Linked DNA regions of Homo sapiens: regions 1 and 2 are each linked to region 3. Evidence: fine-mapped expression QTL. A gene starts in region 3. Each other region holds a variant in brackets. All regions are shown on one strand. Distances are from middle to middle. Region 1 overlaps SRGAP1 (SLIT-ROBO Rho GTPase activating protein 1). Region 2 holds the start of LOC105369798 (a long non-coding RNA gene). Region 3 holds the start of SRGAP1 (SLIT-ROBO Rho GTPase activating protein 1).

Evidence for each region. PIP is the estimated chance that this variant, and not a neighbour inherited with it, causes the effect.
Region 1: its variant is fine-mapped to the expression of SRGAP1 in subcutaneous fat (GTEx, PIP above 0.99). The same link has a PIP of 0.9 or more in aorta, atrial appendage, breast, esophagus muscle, fibroblasts and lung.
Region 2: its variant is fine-mapped to the expression of SRGAP1 in testis (GTEx, PIP 0.97).

What each region holds. Positions count from the first base shown.
Region 1 is chr12:64,086,961-64,095,144 of GRCh38, reverse strand. SRGAP1 (SLIT-ROBO Rho GTPase activating protein 1) reads right to left here. Exons shown (of 22, transcript NM_020762.4): 11 at 8,119-8,146; 12 at 3,767-3,869; 13 at 153-213; 14 at 1-18. Among named protein-coding and RNA genes, the nearest start is that of KICS2, 130 kb to the left of the region's middle. The variant T/C (reference allele first, on the strand shown) is at 3,565.
Region 2 is chr12:64,127,203-64,135,386 of GRCh38, reverse strand. It overlaps SRGAP1 (SLIT-ROBO Rho GTPase activating protein 1), which reads right to left. Exons shown (of 22, transcript NM_020762.4): 20 at 7,663-7,797; 21 at 7,187-7,526. It overlaps LOC105369798 (a long non-coding RNA gene), which reads left to right and starts at 4,655. Exons shown (of 2, transcript XR_945018.2): 1 at 4,655-5,213. The variant A/G (reference allele first, on the strand shown) is at 4,162.
Region 3 is chr12:63,840,036-63,848,219 of GRCh38, reverse strand. SRGAP1 (SLIT-ROBO Rho GTPase activating protein 1) reads right to left here and starts at 3,520. Exons shown (of 22, transcript NM_020762.4): 1 at 3,337-3,520. The coding sequence starts at 3,403. RefSeq lists silencers at 3,678-3,937, 4,048-4,107, 4,168-4,587 and enhancers at 3,514-4,013, 4,014-4,515.

The DNA.
Region 1 (8,184 bases), 250 kb before region 3:
TCCCCTGATGCTGAAGACCTAAAGAGAAAAGAAGGGAAAGAGGATAAAACCCCCATCACATTGTCTAGGTCCCTCTTTTCCCAGGAAGTAAATTTACTGAAACACTTCAAGTGATTTTTTAAAAAATAAGAATTCTGTAGTTTATGGCTTACCATAGAGATTGATGAACCGAATACAGCTTTCCACAATGAGGGGAATAACCTGTCCTGAGTCCTGGGTAAAGGGATGGAAACCAGTTAACCTCAAGGGAGAGGTATAAATGCCTCATAATAATAAGGCTTAGAGTTTAACAGTAATTAAAGAGGGATTTTTGCAGTTCTGGAGCAAACCAAGTTAAATACATTTAAGGCAATTCTGTTTCAACTTACTTTGCTGTGCCTAGAGATGTCAAAACCTAATTCATCTCTTTTCTTATATTAAGACTTACATACCAAAATGAATATGTGAATAACTCATTTTTAAAAGCTTATTTATACAAGTGACCAATCTTTAATGGACTTAAAAAGAACTCTGTGTATTATAATCATAGCATCTTCAGTTTGATTCGCTATATTCATCATGAAAGACAACCTTTCAGCCATCTCAGGATTCTCTCTCTGACATCCCTGAGAGTGCATCACCTAGATGACAAGTCATAAAAGGGCTTCCATATCTATATATCTATAGATGCATAATATGAGAATTGTTACAGAGATAATTAAAACATGTATTTACTTAGTTTGCATCAGAACTTACAGATTTTTCATTCATACATTGTCATATTTTAAGGAATAAGAAAAAAATGGCACAACTGTATATCGCAGATTTGTTTTTTTAGAAAGGAACATTTTTGGGCCTTCTTTCCCCACATCTTGTAAAACAGTCACTGCCTTCTACTGAACAAATGTAAACCGTGGCAGTGTTTTAAAACATGTATAGGATGACAAATGAGATGAAGGGCTGCTGAGGCCACAGTTAAATATGTACCAATGCCATGTACTCCATGAAGTTAAAGAAGGTTACTGACTACAGAATTATTTTTCATGTGTTTTTAAGACTCTGCTTTTTCAGGAATTAGATCTTTTTTAAAAAGAAAGCCAAAAAAACAAAACCACAGGGCTCGAAAATGGTTAGCTGACATCAGGTATTAATTCGTGAGGAATTTTATTTTGAAATGCAAGAAAAAGTTGGTTGTCTTAATATATTAGAACAATTCAGAATCCATTAACCTTTCCAATTAAGCAGTGGGGGAAGGATTAAGAATAATGCAGTTCAGCAATTTAAACGCTTTACTATTCCTGGAATGGGTATTATACTTCTTAAGGAATTGTCTTATTTTAGGTTTTAACACAATCTAATCAGTGTATAAACCAGTTAATGGCTCAATTACTTCTGGAGACTGTATTAAGTTTTTCTAATTAGTTAATTTGTTTTAGGAGCACAAATTTTATTAATTTCTTAAAGAAGAGTCTTAAGAATAAAAACGCATTTTAGTGTGGACTAGTTGGCTCAGGAACAGCAATGTAATTACATCATAACTTACTGAATATGTGAAAGGATTTTTCTTTAAGATATAAGTGTTTTAGGGGAAGTAAACTATACGAACAATTCATGGAACACTAATCTGAAAGCAACATATTTTTAAATGTAAGTGATAAAAAGAGATCATTAGTTTACATCTCTGCTGAATTTAGTATTAAAAAGAAAAGCAAAGAATACAAGGTTATGAAAAGGAAAATGTTTGCACTAAGAAAGTTCTCAATAAAAAATGTCTTCGGTTTTCATATTTTTAAAAAATGTTTTTGTGTTTACATTTACTAATTGCTTTTTAAAAAAGCTATGATCAGTATTTCATTCAGATATAATTAATTTTGTAGTCAAAAAGTAATGAGTATATGTGATTTAATTTAATTTAATTTTACAGATTTCAGATGCATGGGTAGAAAACATAAGAAAATATTTTATAAGAACAATGGGGGTGCATTCCATCTATCATTCAAACTAATCCCTTGGTGTCGGTTTTCCCAAGAGAAAAAAGAGAAAAAATGGTTTTGCTCTTGCTGTCTTCACAGTGACATTGTGGAGATTGCAAGTGATCAAGCCCTTTTTAGAAGTGGAAAGGAGCCCTCTGTATTGTTTCTATTACCAAAGATTCTTCAATGTGCCATCTGGGCTGTGAAGAGCTCCTATAAGTGAATTTTCCATGATAGCTGGTTTATTTATTCTTTGGTACCTCAATTTACTTTCATTTAACTGCTCTTAATGAAAAATTGAAAAAATATGTAATATGTGCTTTTCTATCATCTTAAGCAGCCATTCTCGTACTGTATTATCAAATACAACAGAATCCTACGTCTGCTTCTTGCAGCTTTTCTATATTCTCTTTCTCTGCCAGGCCATCAGCTGCATATCTCATTGCTTTCATTTTATCGTTCCTCTCTCTCCATATAATTTGTCCCTGCTTATAAGCCAGGGGCTGGGAAAATAGGTAATCAAATTTGACAATAATTTTATATTAAATTAGAGCCAATAAGGTTCTTCTGGATTTAAGGCTTAAGGCAGTAGATCTGTAACTGCTATTTAGGTTCTTCAGTGGCTTTCCACTTAATTCCAGAGTAGGGCTGATTTTTAAGGCTGCCAGAGGTTTTTAATCTATGTACATATGTATGTATGTATGTATGTATGTATGTATGTATATATGTATGTATGTCCTTATACATGCCACATGCACATTTATTTAATTATTAGTACACATATTCAATAAACAGACCTAAGAAAGTAAGACGTCTGTAATATATCATTAAGGGAGGTTATTAATGACATGGTTTCTCAGATAAACTTAGTTTGCAGAAACACCGCAGCCCATGCCATAAAATGTGAACTACAAAGGAGAAAGCAAGCCCTTTTCTTTTTTGTAAAATTCACACTAGGGTCCATAATCCAGTATTAAATGTGTATTTGGTATTTAACATTGACTTTCCCTAATAAAGCCCTTGATCAAACTTGATACATTTGCCAAACACATAATGTAAAAACTAATAGTTTAATGTGCCCATTTTTCCTCTAGTGTTTGATTGCTACAGTTTCTAAGTAAAACCTATTTATAAACTTGTCTGATTTCCAAATGCAAACATTTTTCTTTTAAAAACCTTAACAATCTAATTAAAGCCAAGCATGAGCACGACTTGAAAATGATACCAACAGTGAAAGAGCACCCTCACGTCCCTCTAGCACTATACCTGATGTCTTGTGTGCGAGTTTCTTCGTCCTCGGCTAGAAGCATTATCAGAAATACAGGATGAAAAAGAAGACGAAGAGTAAACACAGCAGAGGTACAAGGTATAGATCATAGTCTTACAATTCATTCAATATAATGAATTCCTCAAGTCATGGGAAATCAAAACTCCTGCTGTGTTTCAGAGCTATCCTAACAAGCAGACTTTAAAGAATATTTTGTGCCATCTCATTTGCATGAGTAAAAATACAACATTTTTATCAGGTTGCTTTTTAACTTTCTGTACAAATTATGGCTCTTTTTAAAAAAATAAAGAAAGAGGGCTTTCTTTTATGCCCACATAATAATAC[T/C]CACATTTATTCTCTCTTCTGAAGGCACTCGACCCAAATATTCTTTCCTCTCTGACTTCAGGAAATATTATATTGATTTTCTGGGAAAGCAAAGAGCCCCAGGACAGACTTGGACATAATGACCTTCCTCCTCTTACAAGAGGCTGAGACCATTATAGTAAGAAGCATGGAGATCAGCCACCCAGATGGCTGGTGCCAGTACCTTGACGAATGTTTCCAAATCCCCATTAAACAACTTAGTATTATACTGTGAGCGGGGCCTGGACTTCCTGTGTTTCTGGGGCTTAGGGGGAACATTTGGAGGCCTAAGGGAAGGGAATATAATTACTGAGCATGGCAGAAATCAAACAATAAATGAAACATCTATAGGTCACATCAATATTACAAAACACGGGAATCTTGGGTTCCTTCCCCTCCCCCAATCACAGGGGAAAACATTCCCTCCCATTTCCCATTTATTTACTTTCACTTCTGTATCAAAAAACATACAAATTGTTTATTCACACTGCTGTTTCCCTGTATGCTGCAGCTGACATTTGTTTGTTTGCTGGTTTGTTTTAAAATAAGCACTACCAAGTAGACTCGTTAGCTATTTGGCCAAATGTTACAAACCAGCATTCTTGTTATTTGGTTTACAAGTCACACAGTAAGATACAACCGGTCATAAAGATTAGGGCTCCGGTAGATCCCCAAATGAGGAATTAAATATAACATTTTTAGGTACACATAATTTTTTTTTTTAAGTCAGAGTCTTGCTCTGTTACCCAGGCTGGAGTGTAGTGGAATGATCATGGCTCACTGCAGCCTCCACCTTCTTCTGGGCTCAAGGGATCCTCCCACCTCAGCCCAAGTAGCTAGGACTACAGGCGCATGCCATCATGCCCAGCTAATTTTTAAATTTTTTATAGAGACGGAGTCCCCCTGTGTTTTCCAGGCTGGTCTTGAACTCCTGGGCTCAAAAGATCCTTCCACCTTGGCCTCCCAAAGTGCTGGAATTATAGGCGTGAGCCACCTCACTCAGCCCAGCAAACCAATGCAAGTAACATCACATCTGTTCGATACCCCTCCAGCAGTAATGGAATTTTATTTCATGCAAAAGTAACTATTAATAGGTCACAAGTGAGAAAAATAATTTGGGTTCACTGCTTTTTCTAATTTGGGGGACATACAGGCTCGCATGAGTTATTATTTCTTTAGAACAAACTATTCCACCACCTAAATATCTGAGGATGTACTTGTTTATGCCACTGCAGACTCTCTTCCTCTCCAGTCTGCCCATTTGCTCTGGTGAATAAACCATTCTCTCTGACATATGCACATCTAGTGCAGCATGTAGTATATTTAGAAACTGTGACATCTTGCCCTGTGACTGCAGAGAGGGAACCTCTTCTGCTCTCTCCCTTTAGTGGAAAGAAGGCCAGAATTACCTGACTCAACTTCTACTACTGTGCTGAATGAAATACATGGAAGGAGAGCCCTGAGACCTGTCTCTGGATGTTTTAATGTAAAACTCCTTTTTAACTGCAAGACTTATAGGAGGATACACACCACACCAGGAAATTGTGTAAAGCCCTTCATTAAGCTTCAGACTCTAGGAAAATTTATCTTTTTTAGTTCATTTAGCTTAAGTTCAGAAAGTCTGGTTCATATACCAGATCCCAAGAAGTTACGTGGAAGCCTGACTAGCTTCCTTAGACACTATCATGTATGGAAACAAACCTACTGGTACAGCCTTCCACAGCTAAATTCTAAGACCCTCCCAGCAGATGGGCTCATATGATGAACAAGGTGCACAGCAAGCAGCACCTGAAGTTCTACAGTGCTGGCGAGGTTAAAAGAAGCCTTTGCAAGTGTCTAGGAGAGAATATGGAAACTTCTACCAGGCAACATGTCATCTCCTGCCACGGATGAAATTTCTGAGATCTCTTTTATACACTGAGTTCTGGCCATTCATGGAGGAAATAATCTGATAGGAGTAAAAAGAACAAAACAACCAACCACCAAAGCATTTAACCCTACATACTTGATTTCATCCACTCCTTTCACTATTTTAAAAGTGTTTTAAAGTGTGGATTTCATTTTTATTCAGGTACGGGGAGGCCAACGTTCAGGAGACAACTACCACTGAAAAGATAGTTTGTTAAAGAGTTGGGGATGTGCCCCACCACCAGGGAGGCCACAGAAGGAAGCACCGGGGTGGGTCAGGAGGCAGAAGGCACAAAGGAAAATGTGGGCAGGAGTCTTTATTGTGGTTCCCACTGGAGGGAATGGGAGAAGCTGGGCAAGCAGGTTTAGAATAGGCTAGTTGGAATGATTCCAGTGGGCTTTGGGGCATAGGGACTATCCCTAAGTTGTCCTATACCTGGCCTTGGGGTGATTAGGGAAGGGGAATAGTGGCCGTGAGTGTCAGAACCATGAAGGAGGTGGTTGGAGGTAGGTCGTCTGGATCACCTGGCTTGCATACAAAAGGCACACTTGGCAAGCCAGTTCTTACTACTACTGCTAGGAATTGGCTAATCCCGGGAGGGGCAGTACTTCTGGGGTCAGAAAGTCCCCAATATACCAAAGCATTAAAAAACTAGAAAATGTGGTTATTACAATAAGGTCCAAGAGAGCTTCACATCTGGTGATATCTGGAGAAGCTGACAAAGCTAAGCAGATTAGAATTTTGTTTGGTCACTGATTCACGGAGCAAGCCAATCTTGTAGACGGAGCCAAAAACCTCCAATGCACTGAATCATTGTCCCCGCATGACTGGGAGACGCAGGGTAATGCTGGCTAATGGAGGGATATCTTTTGAGTCTTCTATGAAAGGCCTGAAAATCACCTCTGTAGGATTCTATAGTACGGTAAATATGAACGCATGCAAGTTGTGAGAGGAACCTGGAATGAAAACGAATTGCCTCAGTGCTTATCAAAGTAATTTCCATGGCAGAGGTCTGATGATTCTTGCTCTGCTACACCCACATCAAGTGAACAGAGCCAGGGACGTTCAACATTCCAATTGCGTGACTCATTCTGATTCTGTGGCTACCACATGACTTCCTGATAATTTGGTTTCCTACAGAGGATGCCCACATGAGAGGAAGTACTGGTCAGGTTGATGTGAATATCTAGTCTATTTGGCAATTATAGCTCTCATGGCAAATTAATATATTTCCATTTCTGCTTTTTAAAAAAATCTCTTTTTTTGAAGTGCCTTACAGTAATTATAATTGAGAAACAACAGGTAAAATAATTGATAGTGCAAGGAGATGCTATAGGTGAAAAACATCTCTATAAGCTGCATATTACCAGGTCGAGGTAATAGTCTTCTTTTTCACTGACACAGTGAAGAAAAACCTCAGTGTTTTTTTCTTTTGTTAGGTTTGGAAAAGTCAGGAGCTGTATCTTTCTAGTTGGTTTACCATGAAGTACGAGGGGCTTCCTTATGAATAAGCTGCCCAGCAATAACATTATAGATCCTTGAAAGTCAACTTGCCAATTACTGCAGCAGATATACCAGTGTTCTAAATGCGTCTTATTTCAAAGAGAACTCAATTTCAAAAATGCAACATCTTGCTATGCTAATTAGATAATTTCTGTCTGTTGCACAAATGGTGACATAGAAAAATAAAAGTTGCCACAAACTTTCCCGAACCCAAATCAGAATCTGCTGCCCAAATGGCTTTCCTTTCTTGTAGTAGCTTCACAATCCTCCCCTGAATGAAGAAAGTACAATATGGGAGTATGTGTTAAAAGTTAAATGTTTAAAGTGAATCAAAATGGAGAATATATAGACAGCTAAAATCCTAAAGATATTCAATATAGCTCAAATTTTTATTTTTATTTTTTATTTTTATTTTTTGAGATGGAGTCTCGCTCTTGCCCAGGCTGGAGTGTGGTGGCGCAATCTTGGCTCACTGCAACCTCCGCCTGCCGGGTTCAAGTGATTTTCCTGCCCCAGCCTCCTGAGTAGCTGGGATTACAGGCGCACACCACCACGCCCGGCTAATTTTTTGGTATTTTTAGTAGAGACAGGGTTTCACCACATTGGCCAGGCTGGTCGTGAGCTCCTGACCTCAGGTGATCCACCCGCCTCAGTCTCCCAAAGTGCTGGGATTACAGGCTGAGCCACTGCACCCGGCCAGCTCTAATGTTTATATGACTAAAGGAAAATAGGAACAGAAAATAATTGTACTTTCTACTTACTTATGCAGTAGATGTACACGTCGTATTTTTTTTTTAATTAAACTATCAAATCAAAAGTCCTGTCACGCTATTTAGAAACAGTTAAAGTATTCTGGATTAGATAAACCAAGCCGGTTTAACTTAGGTTTTTGTTACTGTCTCTGCCTATTAAAGAGCTTTACAATTCCAGAGGGAAACAAAAATAAGCTAGAACATACCTAGTCTTGTAAGAAGCCCAAACATTTCATGTTGCTATGCTTTGTCAAGCCAAAACTATCTCCCGTATTCATTAACAAAATGTTAATTCTTTCAGCATTGAAATGGTTGCTTCTTGTTAAAGAGAAAGTAAAATACGCTATAAGTTATGATAAAATATTTTCCTACCTTGTAGTCATATATTCAGCTCTATGACCTGCAGGAAAAAAATTTAAAGTAAGTAAACTGAAAGGA
Region 2 (8,184 bases), 290 kb before region 3:
TGAGTGTGAGTCTTATCTCCCACAGATAAAGAACTAAAATTATGGAGAACCAGACACGAGTTCTTATGCAAGTCGCTGACCTGCAATGAAAGATACATGCACAGCCTCACCAGGTGTCTACTGTTAAAGTGAGGGCATTGATTAGAAAAGAATGGGACCCTGCAACTTGGAATGGGGATGTGTGGGAGGACCCTGATGAAGCTGGGGGCACTGAGTTTGTAAACCCTGATGAACCTTTTTTGCCAGAAGAAACAGCTTCCCTATCCCCAGTAGCGGCAACATCCCCTCCCTGACCCATGCTGCCATCAGCCTTTCCACCTTTGTCTGAGGAGATAAACCCTGTGCTGCCTGAGGCAATGGTGATGGCCTCCCATGAGGCAGCTGCCAGGCAAGATAATGTTGACTCTCCTCAGGAGCCACCTCCAACACTTCTGTTTGCTTCTAGACCTGTAACTAGACTAATATCCCGGCAGGCCCCTGGAGGTGAGGTTGAGAGTGTGACCCATGAAGAGGTGTGCCACACTAGAAAAGAACTGCTTGAGTTTTCTAATTTATATAAATAGAAATCTGGATAACAGGCATGGGAATGGATATTAATGGTGTGGGATAATGGTAGATGGAACATAGAGTCAGATCAGGCTGAATTTATTGATTTGGGCCCATTAAGTAGGAGCTCTGCATTTAATGTTGCAGCTCGGGGAGTTAAAAAAGGTTCTAATAGTTTATTTGCTTGGTTAACTGAAATATGGATTGAAAGATGGCCCACTGTGAGCACTGTGAGTGAGCTGAAAATGCCTGCTCTCCCTTGGTTTAATGTAGAGGAAGGGATCCAAAGGCTTAGGGAGATTGGGATGGTGGAGTGGATTAGTCACTTTAGACTTACTCATCCCAGCTGGGAGAGTCCTTGACCAATGCCTTGCAAAACAGATTTGTGAGAGCAGCACTTGCATCTTTTTTTTTTTTTTTGAGATGGAGTCTTGCTGTGTCGCTCAGGCTAGAGTGCAGTGGCGCAATCTTGGCTCACTGCAAGCTCTGCCTCCCGGGTTCACGCCATTCTCCTGCCTCAGCCTCCCAAGTAGCTGGGACTACAGGCACCCACCACCACTCCCAGCTAATTTTTTAGATTTTTAGTAGAGACGGGGTTTCACCATGTTAGCCAGGATGGTCTCAATCTCCTGACCCCGTGATCTGCCTGCCTTGGCCTCCCAAAGTGCTGAGATTATAGGCATGAGCCACCGCACTTGGCCAGCACTTGCATCTTTGAAGAGCCCTGTAATTGCTGTTCTCTGTATGTCAGATCTAACGGTGGGAACCACAGTCACTCAACTACAAAATTTAAATACAATGGAGATAATTGGATCCCAAGGTAGCAGGAGCCAAGTGGCAACACTCAATCATCAAAGGCAAGGCGACACTCAATCATCAAAGGCAAGGTGGGCATAGCTACAGTAATGCACAGCAGAGGCAAAGCAGCAAGCAGAATAGTCTGACTCGTGTAGAACTCTGGCATTGGCTAATTAATCACGTTGTTCCTAAAAGTGAAATTGATAGGAAGCCTACTGCATTCCTACTTAATTTACACAAGCAGAAAACTTCTAGGTTGGATGGACAAAAGACTAATTTGAATTATGAAAACAGAGAATCATGGCCCCTCAATCAATTTCCAGACTTGACCCAGTTTACAGACCCAGAACCCCTTGAATGAAGAGGAGGCCAGGTCCCTTTGAGGAAGGACCCCGCTATATTACTGACAATTTATGCAGTGAATCTTTATCCCATCCTTCCCCAAGGGGACCTCCAGCCTTTTACCAGGGTAACTGTGTAATGGGGAAAGGGAAATGATCAGACATTTTGGGGACTAATGGACACTGGCTCTGAGCTGACACTGATTCCAGGGGACCCAAAATGTCGTTGTGGTGCTCCAGTTAAAGTAGTGGCTTGTGGAGGTCAGGTAATTAATGGAGTTTTAGCTCAGGTCTGACTTACAGTGAGTCTAATGGGTCCCCAGACTTCTCCTGTGGTCATTTCCCCAGTGCCAGAATGCATAATTGGCACAGACATACTTAGCAGCTGGCAGAACCCCCACATTGGCTCTGGACTGGTAGGGTGGGGGCTATTATGGTGGGAAAGGCCAAATGGAAGCCATTAGAGCAGGCTTTACCTAGAAAAATAGTAAATTAAAAACAATATTGCATCCCTGGAGGGACTGTAGAGATTAATGCCACCATCAAGGACTTGAAAGATGCAGGGGTGGTGATTCCCACCACATCCTCATTCAACTCTCCCATTTGGCCTGTGCAGAAGACAGATGGATTCTGGAGAATGACAGTGGATTATTGTAAGCTTAACCAAGTGGTGACTCCAAGTGCAGCTGCTGTACCAGATGTGGTTTCATTGCTTGAGCAAATTAACACATCTCCTGGTATGTGGATTGGAGCCACTGACTTGGAAAATGCCTTTTTCTCCATTCTTGTCCATAAGGCCCACCAGAAGTAATTTGCTTTCAGCTGGCAAGGCCAGCAATATACCTTTACTGTCCTACCTCAGGGGTATAGCAACTCTCTGGCTTTGTGTCATAATCTTACTCGGAGAGACCTTGATTGCTTTTTGCTTCCGCAAGATATTACACTGGTCCATTACATTGATGACATTATGCTGACTGGATCCAGTGAGCAAGAAGTAGCAAACACACTGGACTTATTGGTGAGACATTTGTGTGCTAGAGGATGGGAAATAAATCTGACTAAAATTCAGGGACCTTCTACCTCAGTAAAATTTTTAGAGGTCCAGTGGTGTGGGGCCTATCAAGATATTCCTTCTAAGATGAAGGATAAGTTGCTGCGTTTGGCCCCTCCTGCAAACAAGAAAGAGGCACAACGCCTAGTGGGCCTATTTGGATTTTGGAGGCAACACGTTCCTCTTTTGGGTGTGTTACTCTGGCCCATTTATCGAGTGACTCAAAAGGCTGCCAGTTTTGAGTGGGGTCCAGAACAGGAGAAGGCTCTGCAACAGGTCCAGGCTGCTGTGCAAGCTGCTCTGCCACTTGGGCCATATGACCCATCAGATCCAATGGTGCTTGAGGTGTCAGTGGCAGATAGGGATGCTGTTTAGAGCCTTTGGCAGGCCCCCATAGGTGAATCACAGCGGAGGCCTCTAGGATTTTGGAGCAAGGCCCTGCCTTCTTCTGCAGATAACTGCTCTCCTTTTCTTTTTGAGATGGAGTCTCTGTCTGTCACCCAGGCTGGAGTGCAGTGGCGTGATCTTGGCTCACTGCAACGTCACCTCTCTGGTTCAAATGATTCTTCTGCCTCAACCTCCCGAGTAGTTGGGACTACAGGCGTGTGCCACCACACTTGGCTAATTTTTGCATTTTTAGTAGAGATCGGGTTTCACCATATTGGTCAGGCTGGTCTTGAACTCCTGACCTCGTGATCTACCCGCCTTGGCTTCCCAAAGTGCTGGGATTACAGGCATGAGCCACTGCGCCTGGCCAACTACTCTCCTTTTGAGAGACAGCTCTTGGCCTGTTACTGGGCTTTGGTGGAAACTGAACGTTTGACCATGGGTCATCAAGTCACCATGCAACCTGAACTGCCTATTATGAACTGGGTGCTTTCTGACACATCTAGCCATAAAGCGGGTCGTGCACAGCAGCATTCCATCATCAAATGGAAGTGGTATATATGTGATCGAGCTCATGCAACTCCTGAAGGCATAAGTTACATGAGGAAGTGGCTCAAATGCCCAGGCTGCACTGATGGCCTCATGGGGAGTTCCCTATGATCACTTGACAGAGGAAGAGAAGACTAGGGCCTGGTTCACAGACGGTTCTGCATGATATGCAGGCACCACCCGAAAGTGGACAGCTGCAGCACTACAGCCCCTTTCTAGGACATCCCTGAAGGACAGTGGTGAAGGGAATCTTTCCCAGTGGGCAGAACTTCGAGCAGTGCACCTGGCTGTGCACTTTGCATGGAAGGAGGAATGGCCAGATGTGTGATTATACACTGATTCGTGGACTGTAGCCAATGGTTTGGCTGGATGGTCAGGGACTTAGAAGAAGTATGATTGCAAAATTGGTGACAAATTTGTGGAAGAGGTATGTGGATGGACCTCTCTGAGTGGTCAAAAACTGTGAAGATATTTGTATACCATGTGAGT[A/G]CTCACCAACGGGTGACCTCAGCAGAGGAGGATTTTGATAATCAAGTGGATAGGATGAGCCATTCTGTGGACACCATTCAGCCTCTTTCCCCAGCCACCCCTGTTCTTGCTCAATGGGCCCATGAACAAAGTGGCCATAGTGGCAGGGATGGAGGTTACTCATGGGCTCAGCAACATGGACTTCCACTCACCAAGGCTGACCTGGCTATGGCCACTGCTTAGTGCTCAATTTGCCAGCAGCAGAAGCCAACACAGCCCTCGATATGGCACCATTCCTCAGGGTGATCAGCCAGCTACCTGGTGGCAGGTTGATTACACTGGACCTCTTCCATCATGAAAAGGGCAGAGGTTTGTCCTCACTGGAATAGACAGTTACTCCGGATATGGGTTTGCCTATCCTGCACACAATGCTTCTGCCAAGACTACCATCTGTGACTCATGGAATGCCTTATCCACCATGATGGTATTCCACACAGCATTACCTCTGACCAAGGCACTTACTTTATGGCTAAAGAAGAGTGGCAGTGGGCTCATGCTCATGGAATTCATGGGTCTTACCATGCTCCCTATCATCCTGAAGCAGCTGGATTGACAGAATGGTGGATTGGTCTTGTGATGTCACAATTGCAACACCAACTAGGTGACAATACTTTGCAGGGCTGGGGCAAAGTTCCCCAGAAGGCTGTGTATGCTCTGAATCTGTGTCCAATACATGGTGCAGTTTCTCCCATAGCCAGGATTCACGGGTCCAGGAATCAAGAGGTGGAAGTGGAAGTGGCACCATTCATCATTATCCCTAGTGACCCCCTAGCAACATTTTTACTTCCTGTTCCCGCGACATTATGTTCTGCTGGCCTAGAGGTCTCAGTTCCAGAGGGAGGAATGTGCCACCAGGAGACACAGCAACAATGCCATTGAGTTAAGATTGCCACCTGGACACTTTGGGCTCCTCCTACCTTTAAGGCAACAGACTAAGAAGGGAGTTACAGTGTTGGCTAAGGTGACTGACTCAGACTATCAAGATGAAATCAGTCGACTACTCCACGATGCAGGTAAAAAAGAGTGTGCATGGAATACAGGAGATCCATTAGGGCGTTTCTTAGTATTACCACGCTCTGTGATTAAGGTCAATGGGAAACTACAATAGCCCAATCCAGGCAGGACTACAAATGGCCCAGACCCTTCAGGAATGAAGGTTTGGGTCACTCCGCCAGGAAAACAACAACAACAACAACAACAACAACAACAACCACGACCTGCTGAGGTGCTTGCTGAAGGCAAAGGGAATACGGAATGGGTAGTAGAAGGTAGTCATCAATACCAGCTATGACCACGTGGAAACAGGGACTGTAATTGTCATGAGTATTTCCTTCTTTCGTTAAAAACATGTTTGTGCATGTATACACTTGTACTAGGAAAATATCTTCATTTTATTTCCTTTTTCCTTTAGCATGTGACATAAGATTATATTGACTTCCTATCAGCATTTAAGTATTGTTAACTTTATGTAATAGCATTTGGGTTGGGGATTGGTGTGTTTCCGGTTATAGGAAAGGACAGTTGTATCATGTTAGGCGTAATTATGACATTATTGTTTTTATTTGAAGATTATGTACGATCTCAGGAGATGTTTATGGGTTCAAGTTGACAAGGGGTAGACTTGTGATGGTTAATACTGAGTGTCAACTTGATTGGATTGAAGGATGCAAAGTGTTACTCCTGGGTGTGTCTGTGAGGGGGTTGCCAGAGGAAATTAACATTTGAGTCAGTGGGCTGGGGAAGGCAGACCCACCCTTAATCTGGATGGGCACCATCTAATTAACTGCCAGTGAACATAAAGCAGGCAGAAAAACATGAAAAGGTTAGACTGGCCTAGCCTCCCAGCCTACGTCTTCCTCCCGTGCTGTATGCTTCCTGCCCTTGAACATCAGACTCCAAGTTCTTCAGTTTTGGAACTTGGACTGGCTCTCCTTGCTCCTCAGCCTGCAGATGGCCTATTGTGGGACTCTGTGATTGTGTGAGTTAATACTTAATAAACTCCCCTTTATATGTATATATATTCCATTAATTCTGTCCCTCTAGAGAATCCTAATATACCTAGGTAATTAAAAAAAAATTTTTTTTTTTAGACACGGGATTTTGCTATATTGACCAGGCTTGTCTCAAACTCCTAACCTCAAGCTATCTTCTTGCCTCAGCCTCCTAAAGTGTTGGGATTACAGGTGTAAGCCACCCACTAGGCCTACGAACATATGTTCTCATGGCCTGTGCTGTGAAAAGAGCCAGAACCAGAGGGAAAAATGGTAGAATGATGGGCAAATTTATTAGTATTGTTTCCCTTTTACTTGGTCAATTTTAGTCATTAGAAGAAAACTACACAGCCCCTCTGCAGTCACTGTTGGGAAGCAAAGACCTGAATGTGTTCAGGAGGTACATAGGATCCAGACTTGTTCTTCAAATATCTATCTATTATTGATCACATTATTTATTAGGTCTCATCTTTTCTAAGTTGAAAGTGCCATCTTTATCATATACAGTAGGGGTTTGCACTATCTGTGGCTTCAGGCATCCACTGGGGGTCTTGAAACATATGCCCTGCAGATAAGGAGGGACTACTGTTTTAAGGTTTTTCTGTTTCTGGGCTCTCCATTCTGTTTCATCCATCTGTCTGTTTTACTAGCTTTAGAATGCATTTAGGATCTGGCAGGGCCACTGCTTTCCCATTCTTCTTTTTCAAAGTTTTTCTGGCTATTCACAATGATAGGTTTGAGTGTCCTGGTCCTACGTTTTTGTCATGTTTCTGTTTAAATCACTATGAACCTTTGGGCCCTTTCAGTAACAAATTGTTCAAAAAAGACTCAGGGCCTAAGTTAAAGAATGAGCTGGTTTTGTTTCTGTTTTCTTTAGTTGGTTCTATACAGAAATATAAAGTAAATAAAGTAAAAAGTAAATAAAGTAAATCTTTCACACCTCCTACATCACACTTAGGTACTTAAAATGCAATATGTAATTAAAAGCATCGTACCTGAGCAATTGTCTCTGGGTCCAGTGGCTTGTGGTCATTGAAGCCCGTGTATTGCCCTGATGACGTGGACCTTCTAATGGGAGGGCTGTCGATCTTCTTGAGGGAGTCGTGCCGGCTGATGTTGGTCAGGCTGCCATGGCCAGGCCTGCGCCTCCGCTCAGGACTGTCATTGTTGAGGCCACGGTTCTGCAGCAGGCCCCGGGGGTGACTGGCAAGGCTTGGGGACCCTAGGTCAACTGAGGAGTTAGAAAGGGCATGTGGAGGGTGGAGCGGGCAATGGCCATCACTGGTCCTGCCAGGACGCCTTACTGGAGGGGGTGGCTCTCCTCTTTTTCGTTGCCTAGACATTCACAGAAACAGGGAGAAAACAGAAGAGCTTATCACACCGGGCAGTACTGCAAGGCTGAGGTGCAGTGGCTCCTCATGGCCCCAGGAGGAGCGGAGGCTTAGGGGCCTGATTCCCAGGCTCTACTTACCTGGCTAAATAGCCGTCAGGATGACGGTCTGTCGGGGAGTTCATGTCCTTGGATGAGGACTTGTCTTCCGTGACTGGCCCACTGCTGGCCTCACTGTCGGCTTTTTGGCTCAGAGTGTCTGAAAACGTATCATCCCTGAAGCAGTAAGAGGAATGGAGACAAAATTTACTAGATTTACAAATTTTACAAAATTTGCTAGATGAGTGGAGATGAAAATTTACGTGATAGCATTTATGTATGAAATAGCATTATGCATGAAAGCCCTTCTTTTATTAAAATAACTTTTCTCTTTTCATTATAAAAGCAATACAATTTCATTACAGGTACAACAGCAATTTCAGTTATACAAAAAAGACTGAAATAATCACCCATAATATAACATCCAGAGACAACTACTGTTAGAATTTTAAGAAATATCCTCCTCCATCTTCTATTCTATGCCTGGGATACATATCTGTGATTGTGTACATACATATGTATGGCATTTATACTACAGTCACGTGTTGCTTAACGGCGAGGATA
Region 3 (8,184 bases):
AGCCTGGCCAACATGTCGAAACCCCATCTCTACTAAAAATACAAAAATTAACTGGGCGTGGTGGTGCGTGTATATAATTCCAACTACTCCAGAGGCTGAGGCAGGAGAATCACTTGAACCCAGGAGGTGGAGGTTGCACTGAGCCGAGACCACGCCACTGCACTCTGGCCTGGGCAGCAGACCGATACTCCTTTTATATATATATATATATAAAATAAAAATTAAAGAATAAAAAAATTCCATATCTGAAGTCATTCCTTTAGGTCAAAACATTATCTCAAAAATTCTGAGATAAATAAAGTTGTTATTAGGGAAAATGGGAGAGAGTAACAGGGGAAAATATTCTAGAGTGTTAGGTTCTAAGTTAGAAGGTAGAAAAAAAAATACATATAATCAAAATGACTCTTGAAATCACCCACACACCTAAGTCACCTATAGAGTCCAATATGTATGTTTATTCATTGTGTTTTTCTTGAGACAGAGTCTCACTCTGTCAGCCAGGCTGGAGTGCAGTGGCGCAATTTCAGCTCACTGCAACTTCTGCCTCCCGGGTTCAAGCAATTCTCCTGACTCAGCCTCCAGGGTAGCTGGGACTACAGGCATGCACCACCATGTCCGGCTAATTTTTGTATTTTTAGTAGGGACAGGGTTTCACCATGTTGGCCAGGCTGGTCTCGGCCTCAAGTGATCCGCCCACCTCGGTCTCCCAAAGTGCTGGGATTACAGGCGTGAGCCACCGTGCCTGGCCTAGACTTATGTCTTAATGAGTCCCACACAGTCAGGTTTTCCTTTAGCAATAGAACAGAATTTTTTTTTATCATCAGATAAAGTTGCTGACTGTAATTTAAAAAGTAGTTTGTTCCAAATACATATACCTTTATTTATTTATTTATTTATTAGACAGAGTCTCACTCTGTCACCCAGACTGGAGTGCAGTGATGTGATTTCGGCTCACTGTAACCTCTGCCTCCTGGGTTCAAGTGGAACCACAGGCACACTGGGACCACAGGTGTGTGCCACCACACCTAGCTAATTTTTGTATTTTTTGGTAAAGATGTGGTTTCTCTACCAAAATGTTGGCCAGGCTGGTCTTGAACCCCTAACCCCAAGTGATCCGCCTGCCTCAGCCTCCTGAAATGCGGAGATTACAGGCATGCACCACTGCACCTGATCCCAAAACACATACCTGTAAATAACAGACTAGCACTCTGCGAGGGTACAGAAAAACCAGTCTTGTCTCCCATGCTGTCCTTACTAAGGGGCCTACTCTCCCTGCATTGGACAGCTGGCCTCATGTACTATTTATCTGTTATTTGTCTCCCACTCTCTTCTTGATTTGCCTAGAAGTACCAGGTGAATTTGTGCCATTTAATGCGTATATGATCTGACTCCATGATATTCCCTTATTCCCATGTTTGTGTATGGATGTAGTGATCTAGGTTAGATACTGGATGTGTAGGTACTGCAGGAGGAGGTAAAGCCTGGACTCAGGGCAGGGCAGGTGCAGTGAAGACTCCTAAAGCAGCCTAGGGACTCGTGGGTGTGTGGAAGGAAGAAGTGTTGAAGGAAATAGGGAGAAGGTCATTCTCTGTGGGACAGACTTAGCTCCAAATGTGATTTTCACCATGTTCATGATTTTTCTTCCGTTTGAATTTGATAGACACATTGCAACACATCCCATTTCGCTGATTTTCAAATAAGGACTTGATCACTGGCAAGTGACCTTACAGCAAACATAAAGAAATCAACATTTGGAAGTGCATTTGCCAATTAGTGCTCTAGGCGGCAGAAAAACCAGACCGCCACCCCTTGAAGACCTGCCACAAAGAGCCATGTGGAAAAACTGCACAGAGAAATGGTGGTTGTGAACAAGAGTACTGCCCTGGAATGAAAGGTTTTAGGCTATGTTGGACTCACTGAAAAAAGAAAGGTTAGTCTCATTAGAAAGTTTACCTGGCTCTAAGAAAATAATTACTTATCTGCTAACACAACTTCCATAGCAATGAAACAAGTTCCTGTAAGTATAAATTATCACAATTCCAAGCAGACAAAAATCTGTGTCTCCTGAACACATTATAGGGGTCAGCCTATAGATAACTCCATTATAGGGGTCCTCCTAAAGATAACCTAAGTTATCTTGCATATTGTGTCTGCAGTGTCCACAATGAGTTGGTCTGTATTCACACTGGATGATACAGGATTTCTCCACCAGGTCCTCTCACAGGACTCCAGGCATTTTTACAACTTGACCACACAAAAGAACACTCAGGCTGCTCCTCCCTTGCTCAAGGGAAGTACAGTAATGCCTCTCTCCGTAGCCCTTTCATAAGACTGTGCATAGATAAACACAGGTGTATACATAGCAATCTTTATGAACTTTGCATTGAATGTGTCAAAGAACAGTGGCGGTCCCAACATTCCATCCATTGTCTCAATCAGGAAAGCTACTCCTGAGACCTCAGGAAAGAGGAGGAAAAAATTCAAGTAACACATATGTTTACGAAACACTTCAGTAACAAAACAAAATACTTGTATTGGAGAGAAAATATATATATTTTTAATCACAAGGCATAGAAAGTAAAAATAATCAGCCTTAATTAGGTTTCCTTCATTAGTTGACAATGTAAATGGACTGAAACTACTACTCAAATATTCAAACCTTCATTTTACATGCAAGTGGCTTCCAGAAAATGATAAAGCAATATTCCCATGTGAGTGTGAAAGATGGCAATGAATTCTGGCCCATTATAAAGGAAGAGTCAGATTCCACTAGTCACTGCTTCGTTTAACTGCCAGGCTTTTAGGGAGCTATTTAATAAAAGGGGTCTCGCCCTAATAAATTGTGAGCGGTGTAAATAGGTGAGTGGTGTAAATATCTGAAATAGCCTGCACTCAATGAGGCTGTAGACCGCTTGGGGTTCACAGACTTTACAAAAATCATTCCGTAAAAAAATTACGTAGTGACAATCCTACCATTTAAAAAGAATAATGATGGTGATAATAATAGCTGGACAGGATCCTCCACTGCTGCCTGCTTCCCACATAAGTTGCCCAGCTGAAGGTGGTTAAGTTAAAGCCAGTTCTCTCCCCATTAGAGATGCGGGCTGGCAGCTGGCGGGGGAAGTCACCCAGTTTCCAGCTCCCCGTGGGTTTGACGGGACTGGGATTGCAACTGGGAACTAACTGGCTTGTAGGAAGCCCAGGTGGCTCAGACAGGGCTCGAGCTGTCCCCTCACCACCTTCCTCCCACGCAGACACCAAGTTAGATACGCAACTCCACGAGCACAATGACAAGAAGGCACACAAAAGGAGCAAGGCAGCCGCTCCCATCCTTACCTTTGACTTGACTTTCATACTCGGCTATGATCTCTTTGTCCTTCTTGAATCGGCTCGGGGTGGACATTATCCAGCTGTTCCGGGTTTGCTTTCAATGGGCAAGTTTTGTTCAGTGGTCACAACCCGTTCTCCTTGGAGAGGCAGAGTTGTACTCCCACACGCAGGCAATCCAGAGGCAGCGCCGACCCGAGGGAAGGGAGGAGGGAGAGGAGAAGTAGGAGGAGGAGGGGAAAAAGAGCGAGTAGAGAGGACTAGATTAGCCCGGGCGCTGGCACCATACTCTCGAAATTGAGCTCCGTCGGTAATCCCAGGGGATCCCCGGGGGAGAGGCCGGACGCGCAGGCAAACTCCAGCCAGCGAGTGGCGGGGGACGTCTCCCTGCCCACCTCGCCGGGAGCCCGGCCACTTCCTCTACGGCCGCTGGGCGGGCGCGGGGCTCGCGCCGGCGCTCCGCACCATTGTTCGAGACCCGCACCGGGCGCCCGGGACAGGGCCAGCGGCGGAGGGCAGGCGCTGGGAACGCGCCCAGCTCGGGCGCCACAACCCTCCCTTCCTGCCTCCAGCTGTCGGCTCCGGCGCTCAAGGGTCCCGCCCGGGCTGGGGATGCTGCTGCCACGGCCGCCGCTCCTCTGCCCGCAGACACTGCCGCTACAGCTCGGCAGGCGAAAGGAATCGCAGTCCTGACGCGAGTCCCCGCTGCTGCTGAGAGGGTGAAGGCGGCGACGCTCAGACGCGCCCTGGGCACAGCCCCGGCGGAGTTTAGGTCTCCAGAGCCGGCGCCGCGAGGGGCCTCTGCCTCCCTGGCCGCGGTGCGCCGAGGCTGCCTTTCTCTGCGTCCCCCTTTCCGCTGCTGCCCCCAGGAGGCCGCTAGTGACAGGCACACTCGCACACGCACGCGGGAGCCGCGCCCCCGGCGGCAGCAAAGTTGAGGGTGCGCACACGGCTCGCGCCTCGCGGGCGCCCGGCTAGCGATCTGCGGGCGGTGGCTCCTCGGGGCTCCGCCAGGCGGGGCCAGGCTCGCGGGAGCGGACCGCGCTCCGGCCTGTGCCCTTCTCCGTCCAAGCTCCCGCCCCTGCTCCGCTAGGAAACGCCTGGCTGGTCCGGGAAGATGGATGCCTCTTGTGGCCAACCGCAGCCCGGCCCCGCGCGCCGAGCCCAGGAGGCCGTGGGCGGCGCCCCCGGCACCTCCCTCCGCCGAGGCCCCGCACCTCCCTCCGCCGAAGCCCCGCTCCACCGCTAGCCGAGGTCGCGGCTCCGGCGGCAGGAAAACCCCTTCCTGACCTGAGGGACCGCCTTCTGGCTCTGGCGGGGGCTCTGGTGGGGCTTTTGCCAGAATCTAATGGGGAAGTCCAGAGTTGGATGTATCCATGACACAAAGGGATGTTACTCCGAGACGCTGGACCCCAATAGAAAAACTGAACACTGAATTGTGAATGACCTGGCTGTTAATCCAAAGAGCGCGAAGCTCTTCAATCGAGGCGGAGAAAAACACCCACCTTGAACACCATATCCTCTATTCCTACAGTAGATAGGGAAGCTAGGATGGTAGGAAAGCGATGGTATGGAAACACGTCACACTTAACGGCGTTGTTAGCTTATTTATTTACTAAACTCCAGATTTTATTCCAATTTTACCAATTTTTTCGACTAGTGTCATTTTTTCTGTTCCAAGATCCAACACAGGACACTACATTGCACTTAGTACTTTTACGGTTGTTTTTGTTTTTGTTTTTTGATTTTGTTTTTTGGGGGTTTTTTTTGAGACGGGGTCTCACTCTCGCCCAGGCTGGAGTGCAGGGGCACGAGCTCCGCTCACTGCAACCTCCGCCTCCCGGGTTCAAGTGATTCTCCTGGCTCAGCCTCCAGAGTAGGTGTGACTACAGGCGCCCGCCACCGTGCCTGGGTAATTTTTGTATCTTTAGTAGAAACAGGGTTTTGCCATGTTGGTCAGGCTGGTCTTGAACTCCTGACCTCAAGTGATCCGCTCACCTCGGCCTCCCAAAGTGGTAGGATTACAGGTGTGAGCCACGGCGCCCGGCCACGTTTTTAATAGATACCTTTTACAAGATCTATCGTGTCTAGTCTCTTTTTATTTTATTTGTTTGTTTGTTTTCATTTTAGTACAGACGGGGGTCTCCCTATGTTGTCCAGGCTGGTCTCAAACTCTAGTCTCTTTTTGAACAATATAACGAAGAATTTACCTTGCCATCTTTGCATGGTTCAGGTGTTGTGTTAAGTACTTTAAATCCATCCTTGCCAGCCTTTTAAATTTTTTTTTATTATTTTTACTTTTTTGTAGAGATGAAGCCTTGCTCTATGGCCCAGGCTGGTCTCAAACTCCTGGCCTCAAAAGATTCTGGCTGGGCACGGTGGTTTACACCAGTAATCCCAGCACTTTGGGAGGCCGAGGTGGGCAGATCACAAGGTCAAGAGTCCGAGACCAGCCTGGCCAACATGGTGAAACCCCATCTCTACTAAAAATATAAAACTTAGCCGGGCATGGTGGCATGTGCCTATAATCCCAGCTACTCAGGAGGCGGAGGCAGGAGAATCGCTTGAACCCAGGAGGTGGAGGTTGCAGTGAGCCAAGATTGCACCACTGCACTCCAGCCTGGGCGACAGAGGGAGACTCCTTCTCAAAAAAAAAAAAAAAAAAAAAAAAGAAAATCCTCCGACCTCAGCCTCCCAAAGCACTGGGATTACAAGCATCAGCCACCACACCTGGTTCTGTTAGCCTTTTTGACTCACACCACTTGAGATATTTACTGACTCCTTTCAAATCAATTCTCAAATATTATGGGCCTGATTTATCAAAATGATGTGTCCAAAGGTGTATCCCCTCAAGTGTTTTCCCCACAAGATCTAAAGAAAGTAGGGACTTTTAGACTTTGATCATTCTTTCATGTATCCAGTGATCGGCTCTCCAGTTCTTAACTCTGTGCCAAACACCACGCTAGGAACTAGGGATTCAAAGATTAAGACTGCCGGAAAGGATCATGCAGTCTATTACTGTATAAATAAATAATTACAAGCAGTACAATAATGCTGTAAGAGATAGAAATACTCCCAGTCTTGGGAGCACTGGGGATGGAAAAACAGACTGCATAAGAGGATTGGGTGTAAGAGTTCGCAGAGGAGTGGTTTTGAGCTGGATTTAAAGGATGAATAGTAAGTAGCTGGCAACTTTAGGGAGGAAAAGGGATGCATTCCAGGGAAAAGGAAGAGTGTTATACTCTAGAGGAATTGCAAATAGAGTGACAAGATATCTTCCACTAAGATACCAGATCTCTGCTAGATGGTGAAAAATAATGTAAAAAATTGTAATATATGTATATGCATGTGTCAGCTGATAGTATGTGGGTATGTGGACATTGTTAATTGCACTGCTTTTTTAAAATCTAATTTTAGCAAGTTTTTTTTACTTTATAGCAACAGAATATATGTAAAGAAAATATGCCAATTTTTTTTAAGTTTTTTTTTCAGTCTTTTTTTCATTTTACCACACAGGCAGTTATACTATGGCACCCCTGGCTGCCCTAATTTCACGTGGAGCTGTCTTATGTAAGAGTGTACGGTGAAGAGAAAGCAGAGGCTGGAAGGAAGGTCAGGGCCAGCTGGGAGAGTCCTCCTGTGCCATGCTAAGATCTTGGACACAGTTCTGCAGACAGCAGGGAGCCTTTTAAGTAGAGAAGTATCACGATCAGATTTGTGTTTTATAAAGATAACTGTTGGCAGTGTAGAAGGATGGGTTAGCCATAGAGAAAGAGAGACCAGGCAGGCAGCCTACTTAGGTGATAATCATAGTCACATCTAAATGGGATTCATATCCATGATGCTGTTGGGATTTGTTTCATATTTGCACCTGGGAAGCACAAGTTGACAGCAGAGATTGCAGCACCTAGAAATGAATTGTTGCCTGAGTCTAGACCTAAATCAGTGTGTTGCAAACAAGCCCCAGAGACAGGGTGCCCAGAGGTGAATCCTAAATCTGCTGTTTCCTAAGGGATCTGGTAAAAATTACTATTCTCTCTAGGCCTTAGTTTGTAAAATGGGTTACAAATTTTCCTTATCTGTAAAATTGGTTAATGCCTAAGTCCTGGGGATGTTATAAGCACTTACTGAGATAAACCCTTAAAAGTACTTGTAGGCCATGGTATACACCCAGTGAGTATTAGTTATCTTTACAATTATTATCTTAGTTTTACTCTTCCTAATAGAAAGCTATCTAAAAATCAGAGATAGGCTGGGCGTGGTGGCTCATGCCTGTAATCTAAACACTTTGGGAGGCTGAGGTGGGAGGATTGCTTGAGCCCAGGAGTACAAGACCAGCCTCATTTCTACAAAGAATAAATAAAGATCAGAGATAATGTTTCATCTTTAATTTTATTATGGTGTTCAATACACAGTCAATAAAATGTATTGAATATTAATGCCACCATTAGTAGGCCACCATTTTATTGTTGTTGAAGATGGGATATACCCACTAAGGTAAGAATTTTGCACACATTCTCAGAAGAACCCTACATGGCGGACACCATTGTCCTCATTTTACAGATGAGAATCTGGAGGCTCAGAAAATTCAGTAAATGTCTGGCCTGGCAGGGTCAGAATTCCAGTTCACATCTGCCTGTCTCCAAAGTGGGTACTCTTTCCAATTTTCCATTCCACTTCCTATGAACTTATGATTCCTTTAAACTTGTGAAGTGAGTTCAAATAAGTAAAATGTGTGTGACGGAGTCATGGGTTTCTATTGGTGGATCTCTTTTCTGATCCAACTGTTTAGTGTAATTAACAAGTCAATTAGTGTTTCCATTATTTTCTTTTAACTTTTTTTTTTTTTTTGACACA